4 linked regions of the Homo sapiens genome follow. Each later gene encodes a partner of the first gene's protein in a complex. Each region holds a gene or a part of one and is shown in the gene's direction. Other genes may lie near its edges.

What was found. The genes of interacting proteins can lie anywhere in the genome.
Region 2: GTF2F1 (region 1) and GTF2H5 share a complex: the UniProt entries of both Homo sapiens proteins name them as parts of the TBP-based Pol II pre-initiation complex.
Region 3: GTF2F1 (region 1) and GTF2E2 share a complex: the UniProt entries of both Homo sapiens proteins name them as parts of the TBP-based Pol II pre-initiation complex.
Region 4: GTF2F1 (region 1) and POLR2H share a complex: the UniProt entries of both Homo sapiens proteins name them as parts of the TBP-based Pol II pre-initiation complex.

The regions. Positions count from the first base shown.
Region 1 is NC_000019.10:6,382,982-6,386,886, reverse strand, and holds part of GTF2F1 (general transcription factor IIF subunit 1), read left to right. Parts: intron 1-3,391; coding exon 3,392-3,576; intron 3,577-3,905. UniProt on the Homo sapiens protein: TFIIF is a general transcription initiation factor that binds to RNA polymerase II and helps to recruit it to the initiation complex in collaboration with TFIIB. It promotes transcription elongation.
Region 2 is NC_000006.12:158,192,350-158,195,849, forward strand, and holds part of GTF2H5 (general transcription factor IIH subunit 5), read left to right. Parts: 3' UTR 1-3,500. UniProt on the Homo sapiens protein: Component of the general transcription and DNA repair factor IIH (TFIIH) core complex, which is involved in general and transcription-coupled nucleotide excision repair (NER) of damaged DNA and, when complexed to CAK, in RNA transcription by RNA polymerase II.
Region 3 is NC_000008.11:30,609,737-30,613,236, reverse strand, and holds part of GTF2E2 (transcription initiation factor IIE subunit beta), read left to right. Parts: intron 1-755; coding exon 756-938; intron 939-3,500. UniProt on the Homo sapiens protein: Recruits TFIIH to the initiation complex and stimulates the RNA polymerase II C-terminal domain kinase and DNA-dependent ATPase activities of TFIIH. Both TFIIH and TFIIE are required for promoter clearance by RNA polymerase.
Region 4 is NC_000003.12:184,366,901-184,369,091, forward strand, and holds the end of POLR2H (DNA-directed RNA polymerases I, II, and III subunit RPABC3), read left to right. Parts: intron 1-1,212; coding exon of another isoform or gene 1,213-1,276; coding exon 1,277-1,394; coding exon of another isoform or gene 1,395-1,405; 3' UTR 1,406-1,691; downstream 1,692-2,191. UniProt on the Homo sapiens protein: DNA-dependent RNA polymerase catalyzes the transcription of DNA into RNA using the four ribonucleoside triphosphates as substrates.

The DNA.
Region 1 (3,905 bases):
CGTAGGGCCACCACCACCCTAGGGTGCTTGCAGATGGTGGGGAGGGCACTCTGGACGCATCTACAAATGGCATTTGCACAGGTCACAGATGAGCAGATGCTCAAAGAGTCGATGGCTCCCAAAGGTTAAAAAAACACCTTTTTCGGCTGGGTGTGGTGGCTCACGCCTGTAATCCCAGCACATTGGGAGGCCAAGGCAGGCGGATCACGAGGTCAGGAGATCGAGACCATCCTGGCTAACACGGTGAAACCCCGTCTCTACTAAAAATACAAAAAATTAGCCGGGCATGGTGGCGGGCGCCTGTAGTCCCAGTACTCGGGAGGCTGAGGCAGGAGAATGGCGTGAACTGGGAGGCGGAGCTTGCAGTGATCCTAGATGTTGCCAGTGCACTCCAGCCTGGGCGACAGAGCGAGACTCCGTCTCAAAACAAAACAAATAAAACACCTTTTTCCCTCTTTGGTGTTTTTTTGTTTGTTTGTTTGTTTGTGTGTTTTTTTTTGAACTGAGTTTCGCTCTTGTTGCCCAGGCTGGACTGCAGTGGCGCAATCTCAGCTCACTGCAACCTCCGACTCCTAGGTTCAAGCAATTCTCCTGCCTCAGCCTCCCAAGTAGAGAAATGGGATTACAGGCATGCACCACCACGCCTGGCTAACTTTGTATTTTTTGTAGAGACAGGGTTTCACCATGTTGGCCAGGTGGTCTCAAACTCCTAACCTCAGGTGATCTGCCCCCCTCAGCCTCCCTAAGTGTGGGGATTACATCCGTGAGCCACCACGCCCGGCCTGTTTTAGTTTTGTTGTTTTGTTTTTTTGAGACCGAATCTCGCTCTGTCACCCAGGCTGGAGTGCAGTGGCGCGATCTCAGCTCACTGCAAGCTCCGCCTCCCGGGTTCATGCCATTCTCTGGCCTCAGCCTCCTGGGTAGCTGGGACTACAGGCGCCTGCCACCATGCCCGGCTAATTTTTTTCTATTTTTTTGGTACAGATGGGGTTTCACCGTGGTCTCGATCTCCTGACCTCGTGATCTGCCTGCCTCGGCCTCCCAAAGTGCTGGGATTACAGGCGTGAGCCACCATGCCCAGCCCCTGCTTTAGTTTTTAATCATTTTCTTTGGTTTTAAAATTTCTGAAGAGTCATAGGTTGGCTCAGCTCCAAAAGCAACCCCGGTAAATGGCACGAAGTCAGAGCGTCCTCCCCACCAGGTCATGAGCCTCCGAGCCTGTGGGGCAGTTTCTGTACCCCTGCTCCCCTGGAACAACAGCCCCCAGGTCTGCCTGCCTGCTCCACTTTGGTTGAGTTCCTGGGGCTCCACTGTAAAATCAGTCGATCAATCATTGCTGGGGGGGCAGGTTCGCTTTTGCTGTATTTTCCTTAGAATCTGCTTTGTAAGTTTTAGGGAGAAGAATTTGGCATTTTATAGAATTGTGTAAAACCTGGATGTTAACCAAAGGAGAAATGCCATCTCTTTTTTTTTTTTTTTTTTTTTTTTTTTGAGACAGTCTCACTGTCACCCAGGCTGGAGTGCAGTGGTACCATCTCAGCTCACTGGCTCATTGCAACCTCGACCTCCTGGGTTTAAGCGATTCTGCCTCAGCCTTGCGAGTAGCTGGGACTACACACGTGCACCTCCCCACCTGGCTAATTTTTGTACTTTTAGTAGAGAAGGGGTTTCAGCATATTGCCCAGGCTGGTCTCCAACTCCTGGCCTCAAGTGATCTGCCCGCTTTGGCATCCCAATATGCTGGGATTACAGGTGTGAGCCATGGTGCCCGGCCAGAATGCCATCTCTTGATCAGATGTTAAATCTACTTAGCTAAGAACTGTTCAGGCTGGGCACGTGGAGAGCGGATCGCAAGGTCAAGAGTTCGAGACCAGCCTGGCCAAGAGACCAGCCTGGCCAATTTGGTGAAATGCCATCTCTACTAAAAATACAGAAATTAGCCAGGCATGGTGGCGGGCACCTGTAATCCCAGCTACTCGGGAGGCTGAGGCAGGAGAATTGCTTGAACCCGGGAGGTGGAGGTTGTGGTGAGCCGAGATCACACCATTGCACTCCAGTCTCGGTGACAGATCAAGACTCCAACTCAAAAGAAAAGAAAAGAAAAGAAAAGAACAAATGGTGATGGTGTCTCGCCATGTTGCTCAGGCTGGTCTCAAACTCCTGGGTTCAAGCGAGCCTCCAGCCTCGGCCTCCCCTCCCAAAGTGCTGGGATGACAGGCTTGAGCCACTGCACCAAACTGTCACTGTTTTTTGGTGCATGGCTCAGTGTGGTAAAGCCACTCACAGTGTTAAGCAGCAGTTTCATTATCTTTCACACCAGCCTGGGCCTTGCCCATGTTAGATGCATTCCTATTAAATGCAGTCCTTTTTTTTTTTTTGGAGACAGATTCTTACTCTGTCACCGAGGCTGGAGTGCTGTGGGGCAATCTTAGCTTACTGCAACCTCTGCCTCCTGGGTTCAATTGATTCTCCTCCCTCAGCCTCCTGAGTAGTCAGGACTACAGGCACATGCCACCACGCCCGGCTAATTTTTTAATTTTTTGTAGGGATGAGGTTTCACCATGTTGTTCAGGCTGTTCTCAAACTCCTGACCTCAGGTGATCCACTTGCCTCGGCCTCCCAAAGTGCTGGGATTACAGGCGTGAGCCACCGCGCCCAACCTGGCCTGCAGTCCTGTTTTTTAAAGCTTCCCTGAGCAATGAGACAACGTTACATTGTTCCAATGGAAACAGTATGTTTTGTCATTAAAGAAAAATACATCTATAAATTAAGATAACAAAAGATCTGGCTGGGCACGGTGGCTCACACCTGTAATCCCAGCACTTTGGGAGGCCAAGGTGGATCATGAGGTCAGGAGTTCGAGACCAGCCTGTCCAACATGGTGAAACCCTGTCTCTACTAAAAATACAAAAAAAAAAAAAAATTAGCTGGGCGTGGTGGCAGGCGCCTGGAACCCCGGCTATCTGGGAGGCTGAGTCAGGAGAATTGCTTGAAGCCAGGAGGCGGAGGTTGCAGTGAGCCGAGATCACATCACTGCACTCCAGTCTGGGCGACAGAGCGATACTCTGTCTCAGAAAATAAAAAAATAATAATAAAAAATAGCAAGAAACCAGTGTGACTGGATTGGGGCCAGACTCTGAGTCCGAGGGAGGTGCTGAGACTCCAGCAGCACATGGGGACCTGCTCTTTGAGGGACTCGGGGCAGAACGGGAAGGCAGGAAGGGCTGGCTCTATCCGTGTGGTTTCAGGGAGTCCTGTGCCACAGCCCAAGTCCCCGGGGGCCACATCACCTTGAAGGCTATGTGGGTGGTGCCCTGGGGCTCGCCCCCTGCAAGCACAGATGCAGGGTGGTGCCAGGCCCGGCATGAGCCCCCCTGTGCCTGGCCCGCAGGAGGAACAAGGTGCTGAACCACTTCAGCATCATGCAGCAGCGGCGGCTCAAGGATCAGGACCAGGACGAGGATGAGGAGGAGAAGGAGAAACGTGGCCGCAGGAAGGCGAGCGAGCTGCGCATCCACGACCTGGAGGACGACCTGGAGATGTCGTCCGATGCCAGTGATGCCAGTGGTGAGGAGGGTGAGTACGGGCGCCTGGGCATTAGGTCACAGAGGTGCCTGCTCAGGCAGTGCCAGTGAAGGCAAAGTCTACCATCGCTCACAGTGGCCCTAGAATGAGAGGCAAGTGGGGCCGGGCACAGTGGCTCACGCCTGTCATCCCAGCACTTTGAGAGGCTGAGGCAGGCAGATCACCTGAGATCAGGAGTTTGAGACCAGCCTGGCCAACACAGTGAGACCGTGTCTCTACTGAAAACACAAAAATTAGCTGGGCATGGTGGTGCATGCCTCTAGTGCCAGCTACTCGGGAGACTGAGGCAGGAGAATTGCTTGAACCCGTGAGATAGAGGT
Region 2 (3,500 bases), on another chromosome or scaffold:
AAAAAAGCTTTAACAGTTGGCTGTAATTTGGCTTTTATTATCCTTTATTAAAATACAAATGTCAATGCTTTTCCTGCCTTTTTAATACCATGTCAGTGTAACATAGGTATTTATTTTGCTCATCCCTGTGATCTGTGCATTTTTGCTGCGTGGATGTGATTGTTTGGTTTCAGTTAGAAACGTCATAGATTTGCTGTTTGAATATGCCAAGGTGGGGACTTAGACATTATGTACGTCTCACAAATCCTACCTGCATACCAGTCAGCTCTATTGAGGAAGACAATGTAAAACTAATGTAAACTACAGTTTGCATTTCCCTGAAAACAGAATATTGTTTTTAAGAGGGTTAGAAACAACCAGTGGGAAAGGCACATGCTGCTTTGTTTAGTTTTTCCTTGTTCAAACTTTGTTGGTCACATTTTCCCATCTGTATTCTTTTTTATTAAGAAAACAGCTTAGGGAGGCTGAGGTGGGAGGATTGCTTGAGCCCAGGAGTCCGAGGTTGCTACAAAAACACCATTGCACTCTGGCCTGGACAACAGAGAGACCCTGCCTCAAAAAAAAAAAAAAAAAAAAAAAAAATTCTACTTGTACCTTATTCCCTATGAGAATACTTATCAAACTTATCTAAAAAAGAAAAATAGGAACAGCCATATGCAAAGTCAGCCCAACAGGAAAGGACATATTAGATTAAAATACATTGCGGCCTGGGCTTAGTGGCTCACACCTGTAATCCCAGCACTTTGGGAGGCTGAGGCAGGCAGATCGCTTGAGTCCAGGAGTCGAAACCCTGTCTCTACAAAAAAAAAAATACAAAAATCTGCCTGTTGTCCCAGCCACTGGGGAGGCTGAGGTAGGAGGTCAAGGCTGCAGTGAACCTTGATCATTGCTACTGCCACTCCAGCCTAGGTGACAGAGTGAGACCCTGTCTCCAAAAAAAAAAGTGTATATGTATGTGTGTATATATAGCAAGAGAGAGTTCTGTGATCAATTGAAGGCAAAAACAGTAACACTGAGAGGGGCTTTGCTTCCCTTCCTGAAGATCATGTCATTGGGGTGGGTTCCTGTAAAGGGAATTTTCCAAGAGAAAAGAGAATTTTCATGACCTGTAGACTCTTACAAATCCATTTTACCTGCTTCCTTATGGTATGTTTATTCAAAGCACCTGTGTACCATATTTATTCACTTACACAGCATTACTGAATCTGGAAATTTTCAGTTAGGTATATTTTACATAATTCCCACCCATATAACTCAGTCCATACAGTTCACAGTTTTCATTCCCTCATAGCAATGCAAAAAATTTTGATGAGTTACTACTACTAAAACTAGTTAAGTAAAAGATGATTCTTAAGAATTTCCAGGCTGGGCACGGTGGCTCACGCCTGTAATCCCAGCACTTTGGGAGGCTGAGGCAGGCAGCTCACGAGGTCAGGAGATCGAGACCATCCTGCTCGGTGAAACCCCATCTCTATTAAAAATACAAAAAATTAGCCGGGCCTGGTGGCGGGTGCCTGTAGTCCCATCTACTCAGGAGGCTGAGGCAGGAGAATGGCGTGAACCCGGGAGGCGGAGCTTGCAGTAAGCTGAGATTGTGCCACTGCACTCCAGCCTGGGCGACAGAGGGAGACTCCATCTCAAAAAAAAAAAAAAAAAAAAATGAATTTCCAGCTATACCAAAATGTTACTAATGTATCTTATATTTCAGGCATGTCTAAATCAACTTTTAGTATGCCTCAGGCATTTGTCACCAACCTTTTATATTAACATGAAACTTAGAAAATTTTTGATAGAATCCCAGAGTTCAAAAGGTATTAGGATTTTTGCCACTGAAGTAAAAAAGAGAAAAAAAGATATTTATGAGAAAACTATTGAACAGTGACTGTGTTGTACCCGAGCAAGTTAGAGGAACGCCACACTTTGAGACGAATTTAAAAGTCCTTTATTTAGCTGGCAGCCAAGAGGTGGCTCACACTTGGAATTCTCTCAGCTCCGAGGAAGGGGCTTGATTTTCCTTTATACTTTGGTTTAGGAAGGGGACGGGAGCTCAGTTGCAACAATTCTACAGAAGTAAAAACATGCAAAAAATTAAAAAGACAAATGGTTACAGAGAAACAAACAGTTCCAGGTGCAGGGGCTCTAAATCTATCATAAGATGTCAGGTGTGGGGGCTCTGCCAGACACAAACTCAAGGCTTTATGGTGTATCTCTTGAGCGAAATCCTGGGAACTTCGTACATTGCTTGCTTCAGTACCTTATGAGTTAATTGGACTCTTTGATATGTTGAGAGTCAGCTTACACAAGTTAACTCCTTGAGGAAAGGGGGTGGGTAAGGAGTCCTTGATGTCCTGTAAATGAAGGAACCAAATGGAGTTCCTCCGGCTTTCTCAGCTAAGGGAGAGCTTATTCACATGGAAACAAGGCTAGGTGATTAAGGGAGAAAGGGACAGTCTGAAAACAAGGTTAGTAAAAACAAGGTTAGGTATTAGAACTGCAAAGAGTATTAAGTGAAATAAGTGAAGGAAAATATGAGCTCTTATTTTTAAAAAGTTGTGTTGGGGCAAATGTTAAATATCTTTCTTTCTCTGGACATTATTAAGAAAGATAGAGTGATGTGAATGATAGGAAGCCCACCTGTAACCACTTAGCTGACATGTCCAACTATGGGTGAACAGGAAATAAGCGACATTCACCTAGGCTGTTTATTGGAATCTGACTAGCATTATTTGATTTGGCATACTTTACATGTCCAGAACAAGGCTGTTGGTGCTTGGCACCAAGAAATTTATGACTTTTTTTTTTTTTTTAAATAAAGTCCTAAAGGTAGCATTAAAATGACTTAACTGGAGGCAGGAGGATCACTGAAGCCCAGGAGTTTGAAGCTGCAGTAAGCTAAGAAGGTGCCACTGCACTGCAGCCTGGATGACAGAGTGAAACTTTGTCTCTTAATAGAACTATGGACTGAAGTTGTGATATTGAGTGTTATATTTCTCAATAAAGGTTTTTTCTTTTAATACTGTATTAGGTCAAATTCAAGGTCTTAATTCCTTGAATTCCAATTTCCTTGTGAAATTTCATGTGATTAATTTAAAATTCCAGGGATCCTATCTAACATCACAGTTGATGGATATAACAATGTATTTTGAGAAATCAGTTTTGGTGAACAGTAACAGCATTACTGATAATAGGCAACAAACACTACTGCATTTTATTTCTGATAGGCATTATAGGTGGTAATCCAAATGATTAATGATTTTATTGCTCTTTACATTTTCTAGAACAGGTGATTTGACATAATTGTACTTTTTTCTGAGAAGTTGGTAGTGTACTTACTACTCTATTTTGCAGTTATACAATAAATCTTACTTAGCTGACAACTAGGAGTAAAAGCTCTGACAAAAAGCCTCTGCTGTAACTAAAATACTGAGATCATTCTATCTTAACAAACTTAACAGATGGGGAAGGGGTATATTTTAAAGATGGAGAAATGATGCAGTTTG
Region 3 (3,500 bases), on another chromosome or scaffold:
CTAGTAAGGGTTATGTTCCTTACTTTATAATGCCAGTATGTGATAAGCTGTACTTTGCAGATGGAGTGGGCACTACTCAGTTCACTTTGTCTATTAATATTTGTAGGTGTTTTATTGATTCCTACACATTTTGACTACTAGAAGAATATGGGTTCAGCTTTTTTCAAAGTAGTTGTGATAAAATGGTTTATTTCTCTTCAAAGAATTTATGTAAATAAAACACAGTTTCTTTTATAAAAAGTGAGCACCGTGCTGATCTACTGTTCTGGAATTCTGGATGTCCAGGATTTTAGGCCTGCCAGTTTGTATTCATAAGGTACTTTTAATTTGCCACTGTATTGGCTAGTGTTGTATTTTAAAATAATTAGTAGAATTAAGAATGTGTATATGGGCTGGGCACAGTGGCTCACGCCTATAATCCCAGTACTTTGGGAGGCTGAGGTGGGTGGATCACCTGAGGTCAGAAGTTCAAGACCAGCCTGGCCAATGTGGTGAAACCCCGTCTCTACTAAAAATACAAAAATTCGCTGGGTGTGGTGGTGCGCACCTGCAGTCCCAGGTGCTGAGAGGGAGGGAGGCAGGAGAGGGAGGCTGAGGCAGGAGAATCGCTTGAACCCAGGAGGCGGAGGTTGCAGTGAGCTGAGATCACGCCACTGCACTCCAGCCTGGGCGACAGAGCAAGATTACGTTTCAAAAATATATATATATATTTATGTTCCATTTGTTAATATATTCCAATTGTATCACTGTTACAGGCTTTAGTCAACAATCCCAAAATTGAAGTAATAGATGGGAAGTATGCTTTCAAGCCCAAGTACAACGTGAGAGATAAGAAGGCCCTACTTAGGCTCTTAGATCAGCATGACCAGCGAGGATTAGGAGGAATTCTTTTAGAAGACATAGAAGAAGCACTGCCCAATTCCCAGAAAGCTGTCAAGGTAATCTCTCTTTTCTTTCTATGTCTTAATATAATTTGAATGAATAATGACTTCTTGGTTTTAAAAATATCAAACATTTTACAATTGTTTTTAAAGCTTCTATTATATACACATGGGTTACAGTGAGCCACTTGAAGGTTTGAAATTTGTCTTGTGCCACCTAGCAGGAAAGGGAGCAGCCATCTCTGTGTAACTTTGACGGGTTCTTGTTGCTGTTACTATATGATTGTTTGATTGTTCAGGCTATTTCTGGAAAATTTTCCTCAAAGGCAATAGAGTTTCTCTTGTAAGCTCTGTTTGTAAATAAGAGTGTCTTCTATAATACTAGTAGATGTTCCTTACCTGAGGAACTAGAGGCATTAAAACATGAAAGCATTGGTTAATAACCTGGCTGTTTTGAAGTCCTAAAGGGGCTATCTATGAAAGTCCTACTGATACAGATGACATTTCCAGTTTAAATTTGAAACTCACTGGGGAAAGCTGCTTGTTTCCATTTGTCACAGTTGCTCATTATTAATGTTAACTTGTTAAGCAGGTTCATTCATTTTGCTGCCTGTAGAAGAAAACTTGCCCCTTTGTCTCTTCTTCTTGGTAATGGAATTATACATGTCAGATCTTCTGGTATTGTACTACAAGTCCCTGAGGCTCTGTTTATTTATTTCAATTTTTTTTCTGTTCTATTAATCCATTGTCAAGTTCACTCACTTTTCTTCTTCACTTCCAACTTGTTAAGCCCAGTTGGTGAATTTTTTAATTGTATTTTTCAGTTCTAGTCTTTCTTTGTAAATTTTTCTTCTGGTTTCTGTTTCTTTGCTGAATTTTGTTTTCTTTTTTTTCCATTCGTGACAAGTATCTTTTGTTACACCCTTAAGTATGATTTCTTATAGCTGCTTTAAAATTCTTCTTATTCTAACAGCCGAGTCATCTCAGAGCTGGTCTGCATTGACTGTCTCTTTTATGGGTCATATTTTCCTGTTTCTTCATATATCTAATACATTTCTGTTGGGTCTTAGACCTTGTGGATTATATTAATATGTGTAAAGACTCAGGATTCTGTTACATTCCTCCCAAGAGTGTTTCTATTTGTTTTGTTTTGTGGTTAAGTGGGCAGTTACTCCAAACCTTGTCTGCCCTACAGCAGGTAGCATATGATATGTCTCTTCTGTTCTTCTAGCCTTAGCCCGTTTGCTTGGAATCTTGGAATCTTTTTCCAAGACTGGCTTATTTCACTTAGCATAATATTCTCAAGGTTCATCCATGTTGTACTTGCAACAGGATTTTCTTCCTTTTTAAAGCTGAATAATATTCCATTGTGTTTTTGTTGTTGAATTGTGGGAGTTTTAAAAAATATATTCTGGATATTAATTCCTTAACAGATACATGATTTGCAAATATTTTCTCCCATTCTGTAGGTTGCCATTTTACTCTGTTGATTGTGCTCTTTAATTTGCCAGTTTCTGAGTTTGCTGCACTCTTGTCTATTTTTGATTTTGTTGCCTGTGCCTTTAGTATCATGTTTAAATCACTGCCAAATCTAATGTCATGAAGCTTTTGTCCTATGTTTTCTTCTAGGAGTTTTATAGTTTTGGGTCTTAGGTATTTAGAGTTAATTTTTGTATATGGTGTAAGAGTCCAACTTTATTCCTTTTCATGTGGATATCCAGTTTTCTCAGTGTCTTGATGAAGAGACCGTCCTTTGCCCATTGAATAGTCTTAGTCTTGGTACTCATGTGGAAGATCATTTGACCATATATGTGAAGGTTTATTTCTGGGCCCTCTATTCTGCCTGTATGTCTTTCTTCATGCCAGCACTACAATGTTTTGATTAATGTAGCCTTTTTTTTTTTTTTTTTTTGAGACAGAGTCACACTGTCACCCATGCTGGAGTGCAGTGATGCAATCTTGGGTCACTGCAACCTCTGCCTCCCAGGTTCAAGCAGTAGTCCTGCCTCAGCCTCCTGATTAGCTGGGATTATAGGCACACACCACCACACCCAACTAATTTTTTTATTTTTGGTAGAGATGTGGTTTTACCATGTTGGCCAGTCTGGTCTCGAACTCCTGACCTCAAGTGATCTGCCCACCCTCGGCTTCCCAAAGTGGTGGCATTCCAGGTGTGAGCCACTGCACCTGGCCTGATTAATGTAGCTCTGTAATATATTTTGAAATCAGTAAGAGTGAGATCACCAATTTTGTTCTTTTTCAAGATTGTTTTGGCTATGTATTAGTCTATTCTTGCAATGCTATAAAGGAATGCTTGAGACTGGATAATTTATAAAGAAAAGAGATTGATTTGGCTCACAGTTCTGCAGGCTCTCCAGGAAGCATGATGCTGGTGTCTACTCAGCTTATGGGGAGGTCTCAGGAAACTTATAATCATGGCAGAAGGTGAAGGGGAAACAGGCTCATCTTACATGGCCGGAGCAGGAGCAAGAGAGAGTGGGGAAGGTGCCACACACTTTTAAATGACCAGATCTCATGAGAACTCATTATCAGGAGAACAGCACCAAGAGGGAAATCCACCTTCATACCAGTCACCGCCCACCAGGCCCCACCTCCAAC
Region 4 (2,191 bases), on another chromosome or scaffold:
TCAGACCGAGGTGGGAACTAGAAAGAAATAGTTCTGGGAGCAGTTTCCAGTCTGAAATGTAGACTGCCCTTTGTCAGGCCCTCCTGGCCCAGTGGTCCACATGAGAAACTGATTATCTCACTGTGTAAAGTGCAAAGGAGACTTGCTTCCCCAGGAATAAATGCAGCATTAAGTGATTAGACTGTTAGGCTTTGTGTGTGTGTGTGTGTGTGTGTGTGTGTGTGTTTTGCTACTCTGTAAAAGGCTGTGTGTGTGTGTGTGTGTGTGTGTGGCTACTCTGTAACCCAATCCCTAGTTCCTTGGTTTTCCTGTCCAGCTATTTTTTCTTTTCTTTAAAGTCTTATTAAAACAATATGTGCTTTTTGTAAGTAATTTGAAATGCAGAAGAGTAATGTGAAGAAGGAAAAAAAAGTCACCTGTAATTCCATATCCAGAGAGAACCTTTTACATAGACTTTTTTGCATATCCTGGTGTTCTGTTTTTTTCTTGGAGACTGTGGTGTTTATTATGTTTTCTTCTGCTCTTTTTGCTTAACATTATGTAAAACATGTTTCCCCATGTTAGTGTAAAGCTTTTCTTTTCTTTTCTTTTCTTTTTTTTTTTTGAGATGGAGTCTTGCTGTGTTGCCCAGCCTGGAGTGCAGTGGCGCGATCTCGGCTCACTGCAAGCTCCGCCTCCCGGGTTCACGCCATTCTCCTGCCTCAGCCTCCTGAGTAGCTGGGACTACAGGCACCCACCACCATGCCTGGCTAATTTTTTTTTTGTATTTTTAGTAGAGACAGGGTTTCACCATGTTAGCCAGGATGGTCTTGATCTCCTGACCTCGTGATCCGCCCGCCTCAGCCTCCCAAAGTGCTGGGATTACAGGTGTGAGCCACCGTGCCCGGCCGGTGTAAAGCTTTTCTTAAACGTTTCAATAGTTGCATAACATTTCAGTAAGTGGATATGTCTTGATTCATTTGAACATTCCCCTGATTTGGGGCATCTAGGTGTTTTCCACCCTCGATAATATAAAGAACAGTGCCTTGCACATATCTGTGCATTGATGTTTGTCAGAATTTTGGTTCCTAGTGACAAAACAGTAGGAAGATGCCTCTTCTGTTTCTTAGGCTGAGATGGAACAGTGCCTTGCACATACCTGTGCATTGATCTTTGTCAGAATTTTGGTTCCTAGTGACACAACAGTAGGAAGATGCCTCTTCTCTTTCTTAGGCTGAGATTGAGAGCTGCTGAGTGGCAGTGCTCCAGAATCACGGGATGGGGCCTTCTGTTTCAGCTCTGCGTACGTGTCCTATGGGGGCCTGCTCATGAGGCTGCAGGGGGATGCCAACAACCTGCATGGATTCGAGGTGGACTCCAGAGTTTATCTCCTGATGAAGAAGCTAGCCTTCTGAACCTCGCCTGAAGCCAGCCTCTCTGCCAAGTCACTCAGGTCATGGGCATTGTTCAAGCCTGAGTGGCAGCCGCTCTTGCTCACCTGTTGAGGAAGGGCTGGCTCACTGTCCACCGTGGCGGCATCTTTAACTGGCCTCCACTCAATGGGAAACTGACTCGCCTGTGAAAGACACAGTGGGAGAGCTGAAAATGAATCAGAAGCTTTATGTATATGATTTTTAAATTAAACTTTACTTTTTCAGACTGCCCCTCCCCTTTTTGTAAAAAGTCCATTTACTGTAAAATCGTTTTTTCCAGTTTGTCTGTGGTGTATTGTTTCTGGCCCACAGCCAGCTGATCACTTGTCAATGTAGGATCTATTCCAGCCTTTTGGTATCTGGGTTCAGGGTTATCTCAGTCTCCTGGCTGACTGTTCTCAACATTTATCCTCCAGTGTGGTTTTCAGTCTGGGAGAGAGTTGTGCTTTTGGCTCCTGAGGGTACCCCAGGCCCAGAAGATACCACCCATTTGGCGCAGAATTTTGAATTGGCAAGGAGCCCTGCTCATGTCCTTCCAACACTTTCAGTCTCTTAGGAAGTCAGTTCATGCTGACTTGAATGAGTCACTTGCATAGTCTAGAAATGTTCATTATTTTTATGGAAGCTTTGGGTAGAGGCTTTTAGCTACAGGCATGGGAGATGACTATGAAGAGAGTAGGACGAGAGGACTTGGTGGTTCTGGAAGCAGCTGGAGGAGCTGGCTCTCTGCTCTACATTCCAGTGGTGACCTGGGAGGGAGGGTAAGTGGAAGTGGACAG